Regions from separate parts of the Homo sapiens genome. Here region 1 is linked to region 2. Evidence: fine-mapped expression QTL. Tissue or cell type: whole blood. Region 2 holds a variant in brackets; the other region holds the start of a gene. Each region is shown on its reference strand, or each on the opposite one. Region 1 holds the start of BLOC1S4 (biogenesis of lysosomal organelles complex 1 subunit 4). Region 2 holds the start of LOC105369958 (a long non-coding RNA gene).

The links.
Region 1: it holds the start of BLOC1S4, and the variant in region 2 is fine-mapped to the expression of BLOC1S4 in whole blood (TOPMed, PIP 0.99).

What each region holds. Positions count from the first base shown.
Region 1 is chr4:6,711,934-6,719,933 of GRCh38, reverse strand. It overlaps BLOC1S4 (biogenesis of lysosomal organelles complex 1 subunit 4), which reads right to left and starts at 3,760. Exons shown (of 1, transcript NM_018366.3): 1 at 2,270-3,760. The coding sequence starts at 3,724. The coding sequence ends at 3,071. LOC105378240 (a long non-coding RNA gene) reads right to left here. Exons shown (of 3, transcript XR_001741568.3): 2 at 6,067-6,123; 3 at 5,789-5,910. RefSeq lists enhancers at 2,719-3,358, 3,841-4,040 and a silencer at 3,511-3,560.
Region 2 is chr12:105,482,852-105,491,379 of GRCh38, reverse strand. It overlaps LOC105369958 (a long non-coding RNA gene), which reads right to left and starts at 1,678. Exons shown (of 6, transcript XR_007063438.1): 1 at 1-1,678. The variant A/G (reference allele first, on the strand shown) is at 5,144.

The sequences.
Region 1 (8,000 bases), not on the chromosome of region 2:
CCCTGGGAATACAGGCATGAGCCACTGTGCCTGAATCTGGATAACTTCTCAGCACATAAAAGGAGTCTTCTTAGAAGGATAGTTTTGTAAGTTCTGTATCAACATCCCAGGGCACGATTAGGAACAAAGCCCCATTGGAGCCCACGGGAATGTCTGTGTGGTGTTTGACTGAACCTTAGGTTGGACTCAACTGGATTGGGCGTCTGACTTTCTCACCCACTGGCCTGCCCAGCTCTTGGGAAAGAATCACATCTTGTTTTTCTTTGTGTCCTAGTCTTCCCATGGTGCTTGATTTCTGAGCCAGCCCTTAGTCTGACTGAATTCTCCTGTCTGCCTTTCTGTCTCGCATTCCTTATGGAGTGCCTACATTTTGTGTAGTCGTTCATTCACTCAGTCACTCTGACAATCGCTTATTGCACAGATATGTGAGTGTACCAGGGATGTGCTACCTGCTTGCTGAGCATGCAGCCAAGTGGATGCAGCTAACATCCACTTGTTACTCCAGGTGAGTAAGGCAGACAGTCATCAGATAATGACACAAACACATTTCACAAACTGTAACAAGCGCTATGAAGGGGACAGTTCATATGTCCCCTTTCCATATCCTCATATGAAAGATGCTATGGGGCATCTTTCGAGGTCAAGGGAAGGCTGCAGGGGAGTGAGCAAGGGGGCAGGAGCCACCTCAAGCCAGAGAACAGAAATTGGGCTTTATTCTAATATGAAGAGAAGCTAATGAGAGCTTTAGGCAAAGCCCAATATGTCTGATTTATGTTGTTTAAAGACCCCTTTGGCTGATGTGTTACATGCGGGAGTGGCTTGGAGCGGGGAAGGGGAAGCAGGAGACCACTTAAGAGGCTGTTGAGTGGCCCAGGAGAGATGCCAGTGGCTTGGATGGGTTGGGTAGCAGTGGGGATGGACAGAGCACTGGGAATATGCATTGTGGGAGTGCCAAGGTGGATAGGTGGATATTAGTTCTTTTTTCTTTTTTTTCAGACAGAGTCTTGCTCTGTCGCCCCGGCTGGAGTGCAGTGGCGTCATCTCCGCTCCGACTCCCGGGTTCACACCATTTTCCCGCCACAGCCTCCTGAGTAGCTGGGACCACAGGCGCCCACCACCATGCCTGGCTAATTTTTTTTTTTTTTTTTTGTATTTTTAGTAGACAGGGTTTCACCATGTTAGCCAGGATGGTCTCGATCTCCTGACCTTGTGATCCGCCTGCCTCAGCCTCTCAAAGTGCTTGTGAACTACCGCGCCCGGCCCCTAATTACTGCTTTTGAATGTTAACTTTAAGTGAAAAATCTTTTAGCAATGTTTTGTTATGTAAGGATATTTTCATATTCAGTGACTATGTCATCGAAACACATGAATTACTTATAGGGGTACCAGCAGTTGCTGAATATTAAATGTAGGTTACTTGTTCTTTCAGCTTCTACATTCAGAGTTCCTTAATTTGTCGTCAATGAACCACCTGAATAAAAAACGTAAATATGTGACAATGAAGGTCCACGAAAGCTAGGTGCAAGATTACATGATCAGATTCTTCACAACACACAGCTAAATGAAAATACAGCTACTCTATGAACCTCAAAGATCTTTGATGACACTGCAAATGACACAAAAGCAACCTAAGCTGTATGCTTTTTTAGCATCTACTATTTAGGAGGGCCACCTTATAAAATAGATTTGAATCTCAATAAAAGTCTACTGTATCCGCAGGAAAATCCTAATACCATTCACTCACACAAATAATTTAACTATCCATTTCGAGAGGAAAGAAATATACCATGCTCTGGACGGGCGCGGTGGCTCACGCCTGTAATCTCAGCACTTTGGGAGGCCGAGGCAGGTGGATCACGAGGTCAGGGGATCGAGACCATCCTGGCTAACACAGTGAAAACCCGTCTCTACTAAAAAAAAATACAAAATACAAAAAAAATTAGCCGGGCATGGTGGCAGGCGCCTGTAGTCCCAGCTACTCAGGAGGCTGAGGCAGGAGAATGGCGTGAACGCGGGAGGCGGAGCTTGCAGTGGGCCGAGATTGCGCCACTGCACTCCAGCCTGGGCGACAGAGCATGACTCCGTCTCAAAAAAAAAAAAAAAAAAAAAAAAGAAAAGAAATATACCATGCTCTGAAATAGAAGCTACAGCTTTTCACATTAGCTCTCTAAAGGAGGTATACTCAAGCCCCTTTTCTTTATCCCACTACTAAAAAAGCACATGAGCAGTACGTCTATTTCAAACACACACAAGGAAATACGTAAAGCTCTTTTCAGAAGGAAATCATTTCCAATAAAACTCAAAATTTCTATTAACATTTAAATTATAAACCAAACATTGGCAACCCACATATATATATACACACACACACACATATGTTTGCTATGGACAAATGAAGACTGTGAGGTCATACTTTCAAATACAACTTTGGAATTAGTCACAAAAAATCAACATATATTCTCAGAAATTGTACCATTTCCTTTGGTCTACAATCCACGCTATAGGAGGTTTAATATAATATTAAATAATGTACCATTTACCCTAAAAGTAGGTTCTAGAAAACTGACTATTAGGATTGAATAACAAGGCTTTAATGGCTCAATTTTCTTATGATTATACAAACATATAAATCTTGAAAAGGTAACGCCATTTAGTAAAATCCATAAAAATAACAGTTTTGCCACAGTGCAGAGAAAAGTTCATTCAGTTTGATTCCCCATGCCCTCGACAAGCAGCTTTCTGATTAGAGCTGGAAGACACAGGCTGGGTGCAGTGGCGACCCCGTAGTCCCAGCTACTGGGGAGGCTGAGGTGGAAGGATCACTTGAGCCCAGGAGTTTCCGAACAGTCTGGGCAACATACCAAGACCCTGTCTCTTTTTTTAAACTTGGAAGACATAAAGTCTATACATTCTACACTGAATCATGAATATACTACGGAGAGTTTGTAGAAAGTAAACTTTAAAATCCCACACTCCAACATCATATATGTCCATAAGCAGGATTTGCAATTCACTTCATACTGGAGGTAAGCACCCCAGCTGGGGTCCTCTTGCCGCAGTGGTCAGGCCGTCAGAGCTGAGGCCTTTCACTGCAACAAGGGAAGTAGTCTTCGGTCCGAAACAGGACGGGGGCTTCGTAGCCGGCTTGCTGTGGCCTCGAGGGAGCAGACTTGCTAAAGAGCGAGGGCACGTTCATCGTGTGCAGGAGCTTCTTGAACGCCCTGGGGAAGGTGCCCAGCTCGGCCTCGGCCTTGGTGACCTGCTCCTCCATCCTGGCCACGCGGCCCCCCACCATCCTCACGAAGGCCTCCAGCCGGTCGATCCTGCTGTAGATGCGCCGCATCTCGGCGGCCTTCGCGTGGATGCGCGGCACGCCCTCGCTGACGACGTGGGACGAGTCGCCGCGAAGCATGTCCAGCATGCCCACGAACTCGTCCACTCTGGTAAGCAGGTCCTCTAGGCTCGCGTCCAGGGCCTCGACCTCGGGCCGCGCCCCGGCCCCGGGCAGCAGGCAGGCGGCGTAGCCCGCAGCGGCGCGGCGAAGCAGCGGCAGGTCGCGGCCCGGCGCGCCGTCCTCCGCGCCCTCGTCCTCCCACGGCCCCGAGGCGCTGCTGTGGCTCTGGGAAACAGTGCCACTGTCCCCGCTCCAGGCGGCGCCCTGCGGCTCGGCCTCTTCCGCGAGCCCCTCCGGCAGCGCTCCGCCATCCGAAAAGCTACCCTCCATGGCCCGCGACCACCCGACTGCGCAGCGCTCGCTTCCGGCCTCCGCGCGCTCACGCTCACGCACCCGCACACGCACGCACGCGCGCTCACGCCTTTGCTTCCGGCGGCCTGCGAGGGCGTCTGTTCACGCGCATCCACCTTTGTTTCCGGCCTCCCAGCGCGCTCACGCTCACGCATGCGCGCTCACGCTCACGCATGCGCGCTGCTGTTTTCTCACGCCCGAACTCACATTCAACCTTTTTTTTCTTTTTTAAGCGAAGGTATAGCAGGAATACAATACAGTGCATACATTTTAAGTGTGCACATTGATGACTTTGTACACATCCATACAACCATGCATCTTCTATCCAGACCAACAGGTAGGACATGTCCAGCACCCATGAACGTCTCCCTCCTGTCCTTCATTTCTTTTTGCTGTTTATAGTAAAATAAATGAGATAAGCAAGACGAAACACAAAAGGGATGGACCTTGACGACTTTGGATGATTTTTAAAGTCCTCAGCTTCGCCTGATTGCAAATGGCGTAAAACTAAGAAATAGTAATAGTTTCCAAGCAAATATCAAATCCAGGGTACTGCCAGAAAAAAACAAAGGTGAAGTTGAGATGTGACGGTTAAATCCTTTAAAATCTCAAAAAAAAAAGCAAAGACGGTGCCTGAGAATACCATTCAGTTAGACTAACAGCTCCTTAAAGAGATTAATGGTGTGGCTCACAGAGTCCATCAGTCAAACCACAAGGCCTCCAGAAGGCTTAAGGCTTGTTCGTCAGTATTAGCAGAAGCCCAAGATAGAGATGGACTTATCTCAAAGGGATTTGTAGGTAGCACTTTTGTTTAACGGAGTGAACCCCGATGAGATTCACAGGAGACCTATAAAGTTTTTTAAAGATAATTATATTGACACAAACATTGCAGATTGGACTGAAAGGAACAGGCCTTTGGATCCCCTCTCCCCAAACTTGTACAAGCAGGAATCAGACTGAGAAAAAGACTCATTGGCAAACACATGCCACATTTCACAAAAAAGGAAGTATAACTCAGGGCATGAAACCAGGAGCCCAGATGGTGGAACTGGGAGTCATGGAGTCCTAGACCTTGAGACTGGATGGCAGAGTTACTGTGGGCTGGCAACTTGTTTGTACTTCCAATTTCCCCCTTTTTGAACAGGAGTGGCAGTGGCTAATCTAGTCGTAGTGGAGCAGAACAGGTCTGTAGTGATTATCCTGTGCCAGCCCCACAACTGTATATTCCAGGCATGGGGGCAGAGAACTTGTCTCCTTAGTTTCAAAAGTCTACAGATCAAGAAGAATTGTACTCTAGGAGCTGAATTTAAGGAACTAAGCTCAGAAAGCCTCATCTACATCTGATCTTATTGAGAAGACAAAATTCTGGACTTAAAGCTGATGTGACAATAGGATAGTAATACCTAAAACTACATGAGATTTAAAAAAATGTAACTTTTGGGGACCTTGGATAGAGGGGAGTGTGGTTAGCACGTTAAAATGGCATGAAGAATTGGTAGTCAGGGGGCAAACTGTGATTGCTAGCCAGCCTTCAAGATGACTCCCAGTGATTTCTTACTCCTGGTATTCTCACTCTTGTGTATTCCCTCTTGTCGAGTATGTACTGGACTTAGTGACTTCATTTGCTCATAATAAACTGAAAAACACAGAAGTGATGATGTATGATTTGGACATTAGTTCATGAAAGGTAGTGTGGCATCTCTTTCCTTCCAACCTGCGAAAGGAAGATAAATCTTGGGGTCCTACAATTACTAAGCTAAAAGAAAAGTCAAGTTGGAAACTGCTTAGGGCAAACCTGCCTCACATTCTATTCACAGTCACTTCTCCGCTCACTGAGATAAATGCGTATCTGATTGCCACCTTTGGAGAGGCTAATCAGAGACTCAAAATGTCTGGGCGCGGTGGCTTACGCCTGTAATCCCAGCACTTTGGGAGGCTGAGGTGGGTGGATCATTTGAGATCACGAGTACAAGACCAGCCTGGCCAACATGGTGAAACCCTCTTTTAAAAATACAAAAATTAGCCGGTTGTGGTCGTACACACCTGTAATCCCAGCTACTTGGGAGACTGAGGCAGAAGAATTGCTTGGACCTGGGAGGCGCAGGTTGCAGTGAGCCGAGATCACGCCACTGCTCTCCAGCCTGGGCGACAGGGTGAGACTCCATCTCAAAATAAATAAATAAATAAATAAATAAAATTTTAAAAGAAAGAAAGAAAAAAAGAAACTCAATAGAATGCAACCATTTTTCTCTCATCTACCCAAGACCTGGAAGCCCCCTCCCCGCTTCAAGTTGTCCTGCCTTTGCTTTGAGTTGTCTCACCTTTCCGGACCAATCCATCGTTCATCTTAGATATGTTGATCGATGTCTCATGTCTCCCTAAAATGTATAAAACCAAGCTGTGCTCTGACCACCTTGGACACATGTCATCAGGACCTCCTGAGGCTGTGTCACGGGCACACATCCTCAACCTCGGCAAAATAAACTTTCTAAATGAACTGAGACCTGTCTCAGATATTGGGGGTTCACAAACCACTTGCTCTGGGGAAACCAGCTGCCTTGTTGTGAGCAGCTCCATGGAGAAGCCCATATAGCAAAGAACTGAGACCAACAGCTAGGGAAAAACAGCCTCTTTCCAACAACTACATGAGTAAGTCATCCTGGAAGGGGATGCTCCATCCTCATTCAAACTCAGAAATGACTGCAGCCCCAGCTGATAGGTTGACTGCAACCTCATGTAAGATACTAAACTGAAATGACATAAGATAATGCTATGGTCTGAATATTTGTGTCCTCACATCCAAATTCATATATTTAAATTCTACCCCAGAAGGTGATTGATAGGGTTTGGATGTCCTGCCCAAATCTCATGTTGAAATGTAATCTCCAGTGTTGGAGCTGGAGCCTGGTGGGAGGTGACTGGGTCATGGGGACAGATTTCTCATGAATGGTTTAGCGCCATCCCGTTTGTGCTGTTCCTGTGATGAGTGAGTTCTCGTGAGATCTAGTCATTTAAAGTGTGTGGCACCTCCTGTCACCTCTTGCTCCTGCTTTGGTCATGTGACATGCCTGCTCTCCTTTTGCTTTCCGCCATGATTGTAAGTTTCCTGAGGCCTCCCCACAAACCAAGCAGATGCCAGCACCCTGCTTCCTGTAGAGCCTGCAGAACCCTTAGCCAATTAAGCCTTTTTTCTTCACAAATTACCCGGTCTCAGATATTCCTTTATAGCAATGTGAGAACAGCCTAACACAGTGATGATATCAGGAGATGGGGCCTTTGGGAAGTGATCTGGTCATGGGGTCAGAGCCCTCATGAATGTGACTAGTACCCTTATAAAGGATATAAGGCCAGCTGCAGTGGCTCATGCCTGTAATCCCAACACTTTGGGAGGAAGAGGCAGGAGAATTGTTTGAGGCTAAGAGTTTGAGACCAGCCTGGGCAACATAGCAAGACCCCCGTCTCTAAAAAAAATTTTTTTTAAAGCTGGGTGTGGTGCCATGTGCCTGTAGCCCCAGCTACTCAGGAGGTGGAGGCTGGAGGATCACTTGAGCTCAGGAGTTTGAAACAGTGAGCTATGCTCATTCCACTGCACTTTAGCCTGTGCAAAAGAGCAAGACTTTGTCTACAAGTAAATACACAAAAGATGTATAAGAGGGCCGGGCACGGTGGCTCATGCCTGTAATCCCAGCACTTTGGGAGGCTGTGGCGGGTAGATCACCTGAGGTCAGGAGTTCAAGACCAGCTTGGCCAACATAGTGAAACCCCATCTCTACTAATAATACAAAAATTAGCCAGGCGTGATGACAGGCACCTGTAATCCCAGCTACTCAGGAGGCTGAGGCAGGAGAATCGCTTGAACCCGGGAGGCAGAGGTTTCAGTGAGCAGAGATTGTGTCACTGCACTCCAGCCTGGGCGACAAGAGTGAAACTCAATCTCCAAAAGAAAAAAAAAAAAGGATGCATAAGAGAGACCCCTTGCTCCTTCCATCCTGTGAGGACACAGCAAGAAGGAACGGTTTATGAACCAAAATACTAGCCCTCACCAGACAGAATCTACTAGCACTTTGATCTTGGACTTCCCATCCCCCAGAACTGTGAGAAATAAATTTCTTTTGTAAGCTGCCCACCTTATGGCATTTTGTTAGAGCAGCCTAAATGCACTATGACAGATAATAAATGTTTTAAAGCTGCCAAATTTTGGGTTAACTGGTTATGCAATAATAAACCACTGAAGGAATATGCTACTATTTATTCA
Region 2 (8,528 bases):
CACAGAATGGTGATTATAATAAATAATAATGTACTGTATATTTCAAAATTACTAAAATAGTAGATTTTAGATGTTTTCACCAAAAAAAGATATGTGAGGTGATGAAATTGTTAATTAGCTTGATTTAGTCATTTCATAATATAAACATATATCAAAACATCACATCATATCCCATAAATATATAGTACTTATAATTATTTGTCAATTAAAAATAAAATTTACAGGCTGGGCACAGTGGCTCACACCTATAATCCTTTGGGAGGCCAAGGTGGGAGGGTCACTTGAGGTCAGGAGTTTGAGACCAGCCTGGTCAACATGGCAAAACTCCATCTCTACTAAAAATAGAAAAATTAGCAGGGCATGGTGGCAGGTTCCTATAATCCCAGCTACTTGGGAGGCTGAGGCAGGAGAATCACTTGAACCCAGGAGGTGGAGGTTGCACTGAGCTGAGATCACACCACTGCACTCCAGCCTGGGCATCAGAGCAAGACTCCATCTCAAAAAAATAATAATAAAGTAAAATTTATAAAAGTCAGCTCCTAGGAGGTGTTGTGAAGAACAAAAAATATAATGAATATAAAGTTGTTTGTAATGATTCATGCCACATGCACACAAAAATTGTTGTTGTTGAATCTGCTCAGGCTCTTGTAGCCCAGAGTATCTAAGATGCCACTCACAGGGCAGGTTTGTGAGGTCACTGAACTTGCTAATAACTGTACAAAACCTGTTACCCTTTCCCCCACCCAAAGAGCTTCAGTTCCTTGAAGAGTCTTATGCCTCTTTGCAACCATGGTGTTTAGCATAAAACCTGGGGCAGAGGAGGTGCTCACTCAAAGCGTTTTGGTAATAGATTTGAAATAGCTGCCCACTTCCCCAAATCTACACCTGGGACCAAGGGAGGAAGGAGCTTTCATTTGGCCTATCCTGTTGGTGACAAAAATGGCTTTAAATACTTTTAGAGCTAAAGTCCTTTGTATTCTTTCATACCAAGGCTACAGAAACTCCCAATCTAATCTCAGATCCTCCAGACAAAATATGGAAAGGGGACTTTTCCATTGTCCTTTATAGATTCACTCTCCCTCTTTTCCTTCATCAGCGCTTTGAATTAACTCAAGGGAGAAAAAGAATCTGCTGACTTTCTGTTTTCTCCAAATGGAAATCTCAAAAAAAAAAAAAAAAAGAAGGGTAGGAAGAAAGATTGTCAACCAAGTGGAAACACAGTCACCATCAAAATTCTGTAACAAGAAATGCCTCAGCAGATGAGCTCTTTGTAAAATGAAGAGGCCTTCTACACCAAGATATGGATGTTTGAGATCTAGCTTCATATGCATTGCAAATCTGACACTCCTACATATATTTAGGCACAAAACAAGAGATTCCATTATATATAATCCAGTGTTAATCATTTGCCATATCAGAAAGGTAAAGGACAATTCATTCACGCATCCATTCATTTAACAATTATTAATTGAGCACTGTGCTAGCTGAACAATTCAGATTTGTTGCATGAACTCCCAGAAATTATAGTCTGTGGGAGATGTGAACTTATAATTAGGTAATTACAATAGACTGTGTAAGTACAATGATAGAGAAGTGCAGACTGCTACAAAGTTTAACCATTTTAATATAACAATACTAAACATGCACATATTTACTAAAATAATCTCAAATTATATAGATCAAAAATTAATAGAACTATGGGGAGAAAATCAGCAAAACCATCATCTCAATGATTGATTGATCAAGCAAATGAAAAAACAAAAAATGCAGAAAATCCTAACAATCCATTGACAAGCTTGATTTAAAGACATATTTAGAATCCTACTTCCAATAATTAGAAGATGTGTGTCTCAAACACACATAAAACATAAAACATTTACTTTAAAATTGCCATGCAGTACTTAAAGTCTCAATGAATTTTTAAAAATGAGTATCCTATAGTAGATATTTTTTAATTACAATGCAATTAAGTTAGACATCAATAAAAAATTTAAACACACTTGGAATTATAAAAATAAACTTATAAATCACTCATGGGGAAAAGAGAAGCCAAAACGGAAATTCAAAAGTACATAGAACTCAATTGTAACAATAATACTATATATTAATACTCACAGGGTGCAATGAAAATAATACTTCAAAACAGGTTTATACCCTGAAATGTTTATATTAGGAAAGAAGAAAGGCTTAAAATTAATGAGCTGAGCAACCAACTAAAAAAGTTATTAAAAGAATAGAATAATAATACCAACATAATATAAAACAAAAACATAGGGAAAAAGGTCAACAAAGCTGGAAGTTTGTTCTCTGAGAAGACTAAAGACACTGATAAACCAGTAGTGAGCCTGATCAAAAGCAAACAAACAAACATATAAGTAAGAAATATTAGGAATAAAAGAGGAATATAACTATCATACAGACTGAAAATAAGTGAATATTTAATATTAATACATTTAAATTTAATGTTAATAAATTTGACGTATAGATTAAAATATATAAATTCCTAGGAAAGCTAAATAACCAAAACTGACTCAAGGAGAAATCAAAACCCTGTATAATCTTATAACTGTTGAGGGAATTTAATCAGCAATATAAATCCTTCTGAAAAATAGCCAGCCCAAACTATTTCATAGAATACATTTCACAAACTTTCAAGGAACAAACCATTCAAATATTCAAATTCAAATATCTTTTCCAGGTAATTGAAAAGAAAGAACATTCTACAACTTATTTTGTGAGGCTAATATAATACTGACACCAAAAACAGACAAAGAAGGTTTAAAAAAGAAAAATTATACATCAGTCTTACTCATGAACACAGATGTGAAATTTCCAAACCAAATAGTATAATAAAAAAATTTTTTTAACTATAACTTTGTGACCAGGCTGAACTATCCAAGGAAATGCATGGGTAATTTAACATCAGAAACTTTATAAATGTAATTCAACACATAAATAGACTAAAAGAGAAAAAAAATTATATTCTGAATTCCCCAGAAACAAAGGATAAAGTGTGAGTACTTTTCTGAGGCATGAAAGCCAGAGAGCAAGAGTGAGCGGTAAGAAGAAAGGAGAGTCAGAGAGGAAAGAAAACTAACACCAAGACAAATTATCAAGCCGCTGCTGCATGAGTGACGCAAGCCCATGGGACTGCATGAATGGCCACGTAAAATGCATTTCAGCACTGTCTATACAGATAAATGACAAATCCTTTTTCTCAATGAATAAATTTTGGTGAGTGCCAAATGGTTCTCATACTGTTTCCCACTGCGCATCAACAGAGACAGGAAGAGGCATGCAGTGAGACCCAAAGGTTAATTGCTGTCAGGGTGCACCTGTGTGAAACTGATAAGTGCTCACACAAAATTGGTCACTGCATCAGTGGCTGAAATAAGAAAAAAATTAAGGCTGCGCAACTCTGAAGTCATACATGGGAAGTGCCCAAAGCACCATATAATCTTTTCAGTACAAACAGAAAAAGCCTTTGATAAAATTCAACAAATATTCATAATTAAACAACAATCAAAAAAATCTCTTAGCAAACCAGGATAACAACAGAACAAAGTTTCATAACCTCATATAGGATACCTATTAAACCTGTAATAAGCATTATTTTAATATTTGATATTTGTAAAATGTTAGAATTATTACAATTAGAATCAGGAAAAAGACAGATACCATTCTCACTACCTCTTTTTCACACTAAACTGGAAGACATCGTATAATCCTCCAGGAAAAATAAATAAAAGGCATAAGTATTAAAAAGAAAGAAACAAAACTCTGTTAGCTGATGATATGATTGTCTATGTAGAAGACCCCATTGAATCTGCAGACAAATCAGTATAAATGATGAGAGATTTACAAGGTTACTAGATCTTATGTCAATTTTCAAAAACCATTTTCATGTCTACACACTAGCAACAAAGTTAGAAAATTTAAATTTAAAGATATAGTTTACATTTACAGATGAAATAATATCATGTTTGGGATTTTCTTAATCATAATCTTGGGAAGGGTAGGAAGAGAACAGCTGTCTTCTCACATCATGCCACCACCACCACCTCCACATGGTCATCACTACCATCTTTACTAGCATCCTCAGGGCAAATCACTGCCACTTCTACCTGCTCTCACCATGATCACTGCCATTACACCATTACTGCTATCCTATCACAGTCATTGCTACCACTGCCACCATCACACTGTCACCATCATCTGTACCATCTCTAGTACCATCCTTTCTCAAAACATTAATACCACCATTGCCACCCTCACCATCACCATCACCACTGTATTGTTTACTACCATCTTGACTACAATCCTGTTACTGACATCTTGATTACCATTGTATGGCCACCATCACCACTATCAGCAGCAATGCCATCTTCACTACCATCCTCATGGTAAACCATCACCACTGTCACCACCATCATGGCCACCACTATCACCAATCTAAATGTCTCTGTCATCATTATGACATCATGCTGGAATCATTACTACCACAACCATCACCACCATCTCATAGTCCCCATCATTACTACCATCCTTACAAGCAAACCATTACCAGCATGACCAACATCCTCATCATCACCATCATTATTACTTCCATCGTGGTACACTTGGGCTATCACTACCACAACCACCATCAACTAGAGCTAGGTGTCCCTCCACTGTGCTCCCAAAGCCTGTTGCATGCATTGTTCACACTGCTTCATAAAACCTGTGTACATGTTGTCTCTCTCATTGAGTGGTGACCTCTTCAAGAGCAGGGACAAGAACTCATTTTATTACATAGTTCCTACACCAAACACAACACCTGGCACATAGAAAGTACCAAATCAGTATCAGTTGAGTAAAGGAATGAATGAATAAATGAAAGCTACTATAAATAATAATAACTAACAATCACGTAAGGCCTTCACGTAAAGCTCACAATAATCCTATGAAGTGGGTAGTACCACCCTTGTTTTTTTTTCAGACAGGGTCTCACTCTGTCACCCAGGCTGAAGTATAGTGGCTCAATCATAGTTCATAGCAGTCTCAAACTCCCAGGCTCAAGCAATCCTCCTGACTCAGACCCCTAAGTAGCTGGGACCACAGGTGCACACCATCACACACCCAGCTGATTTTAAAAAAATTTTTT[A/G]TAGAGACGGGGTCTCATTATGTTGCCCAGGCTGGTCTCTAACTTCTGTGCTCAAGCAATCCACCCACCTCAGGATCCCAAAGTGCTGAGATTACAGACGTGAGTCACCCTCCCGGCCTACCCCTATTTAAGGATGAGGAATTTGAAGGTCAGTGACTTGCCCAAGGTCACATAATTAGTAAATGGCTAAGCCAGAACATGAGCCCATTTCATCTGGCTCCAGGGCCATTGTCACTACCTGCTGTATTATAGTTTGCCCCAGCTTTTCCTTATATTTCTAGCTGCAAGGTATAATCATGGAGGGAAAGCATTCATCTCATGGGAACCTCAAAATCCTTGGAATGTGGATTACCTAGAGCCTACTTGTCAGCTTAGCTACCGTGAGTTGGGCTGTGCCTCTGAATATGACTCCCTTGAAAAATATCCCCAATTCTCAGGGAACATTTTCAACTCTGGGTTGAAAGTTGATAGTTTGTGCTTGTTTCTAATGAGCTTCCTGTCTTAGAAGGGGAAAACAAAGGCTATCTAATAAACACAGCTGATTAGCAAGCCTTGAAATATCCCAAACTCCTAAGAGAGGAAAGCCAATTGTGTGTGAGGGTGTGCAAACTCACGCGGGGCAGTATAATTGAAGGAAGCTCTCAAGGAGTTGGTGTATTTCAGAGGAATGTATCATCCGCTGCCACAAAGCTGGGCTCCCTGACCCTGGCCTTGGTTTAGCTCCTGGAAACGCACTGCAACAGGACGGCATGTAACTATCAGTGGTGACACATTCAAAACATCCTCTGCACATTCCAGCACTGCTGGGGGTGGGGAGTGTCTACAAGAAACACCTGATTTATTAAGAAATCCCTACTCCTTTAAGCCAAGATATGCTAGCGAGGCTCCACAATGACTTGGCAGCACCACAACGACCTTGCACACTCACCCAGCTTTGCTTTCTGAGCGGGACTCCCAGAAGAACATGTTCCATGGTGCCCTCCTTGCTCAGAGACTCTACTTCGGCTCAGCTACAGTATGCAAGCCACAGCCAGCAGCATCGTGCTTACTTATTTGCTATTGGGTTAATTGGGTATCATGCATGGTACTATTTTTCTGCATTGTCTTAGCTGATATGACAACCCAATCAACCAGGTTGCCTTTGGATCGTTATTTTATAGACAAGGTAACCAAGTGTATTAGTCTGTTTTCACACTGCTGATAAAGACGTACCCCAGACTGGGAAGAAAAACAGGTTTAATGGACTTACAGGTCCACATGGCTGGGGAGGCCTCACAATCATGACAGAAGGCAAGGAGGAGCAAGTCACGTCTTATGTGGATGGCAGCAGGCAAAGAGAGAGAGCCAAGTGAAAGGGGTTTCTGCTTATAAAACCATCAGATTTCATGAGACTTATTCACTACCATGAGAACAGTATGGGAGAAATCGTCCCCATGATTCAATTATCTCCCACTGGGTCGCTCCACAACACAAGGGAATTATGGGAATTATAATTCAAGATGAGATTTGGGTGGGGACACAGCCAAACCATATCACCAAGGATAGAGAACTAAAGACTCCACCAGGGAGTTGTAGGTCGTCAGTGCTGCAGCCCAAATTTCAACCCAGGCCTTCGGACTCCAGAGACTGTGGTTGCAACCACTGTGCTGCACTGCCTCCCCAAAGACTTAATTAGAGGGCCCTTCAAGGGAAAGCTCCAAGTACATGTGAAAAGGGAACTCTTGCAGGCCTCCATTCTTCTGAACATGCACACGTTAAATGGAAGTGCAAACTTTCCAAGTAACTTCTACGCATTTCGTTTAAGGTTGGTGTGTGTGTGGCAGTTCTCCTTGATGGGTTGTAAATGCCCTCAAGGCAGGAACTGTACATGATATCTTTTGTGTCTCCCATACCTAGCCAAGTGCCTGGCATAGAGCAAGTGGTCTGGAAGTGTGTTTTTAAAGAGGGGAATGAAGATGATGATCCTAATGAAATGATGCTGCTCTCTGAGCCCTGTGGTTGTTTTCAGTCTGGCCTCCCACACTGTCCTGCAGGCAGCCTATACTCCAGCCCCATTGATCACCTCCCCTAGTCCCATAGACACACCCACGCTTTCACATCTCTGTGACTTTGCCTACGATGTGGCCTCCACCTGGAATACTGTTCTCTGCTCTCTCACCTTTCTTTAAAAGCCCATCTCAATGCCACTTTCTCAGGAGACTTCTATGGGTCCCTCCTGCAGCTAGAAATAATCCCTCATTCTGAACTCCCACAGTTCCTGTTAGTTCCTTCCTGTTCTTTCCCTACCCCTTTTCATCTCAGAGGGTTATTGTGATGCTGAACTGAGATCATGTTCAAGGAAGCTCTTTGTAAACCAGGAGGCACTGTCCAAACATGAGGGCTTATGAGGGCCCAGATCTCATCAACTAAAGAATGATATGGTCAACAGTGTCCAATTCTATGCTGCTCAATACAGTACTTCACACACTCAAGGAGCATTTGCTGAAAGCCTGGTGTTTCCCAAGCTGGTCTTGAACTTCCAAGCTCAAGCAATCTTCCTACTTCAGCCTCCCAAAGTGTTGGGATTACAGGCATAAGCTACCATGCTCAGCTCAAAAAACAAAACAAAACAAAACAAAACAAAACACACTTCTTGAATGACAGAATTGCACCACGGAAGAGAAGGAACAGAGTTTGGTGAGCAGGTAGCAAGCACCCCCTTCCCTCTGCCTCTCTCTGCACAGCATCCCCCAAGTATCCCCCAAACTTGCACACACCCACATACATAACACCACTCCCACTAAATAGACCCCAGACACCACAGCCTTCCAAAAACTTCTATTTTTTTCTATCCTTGCACATTCTGCTTCCATGTTCTTCAGCCCCTCCCAACAGCCCCCAAGCTTCGTGACTCTTCTAGCTCCACTAAACTATTTCCCTCTCCAAGTACTAAAATGCTAAGTATTTATTTTAGGATGGAAGAAAATTACAGCCTGTAATTAGCACATTTTTTGAACATATTGCCTAAACCACTGCTGTGTGGTGGAGCCAAGAACAAGCAGTAGTAAAATTAACAAGGTTTATTAAACAGAAGAAACCATTCAGAGCTGAGCTAATGCAACAATCACATGGAAGTCCCTCCTCTCTCCTGGGGCAGCTCTCTCGATCATCCCTTAAAGAGGAATGACACTCTCCTCTGAAAGCCAAACTATGCATGTCACAAACAGGGATCAGGGAAGAGAGCTGGATTTATAACTCAGCTCTAAGATCCATGAGCTGTGTGACCATAAGTTAGTCAAACAACCTCTCTGAGTCTGTTTCCCACCTACAAAATAACGAAAACCTGTCTGATATACCTGATAAGTAACAGGACTACTATCTTCACATCCATGCATTCAGGATCTAA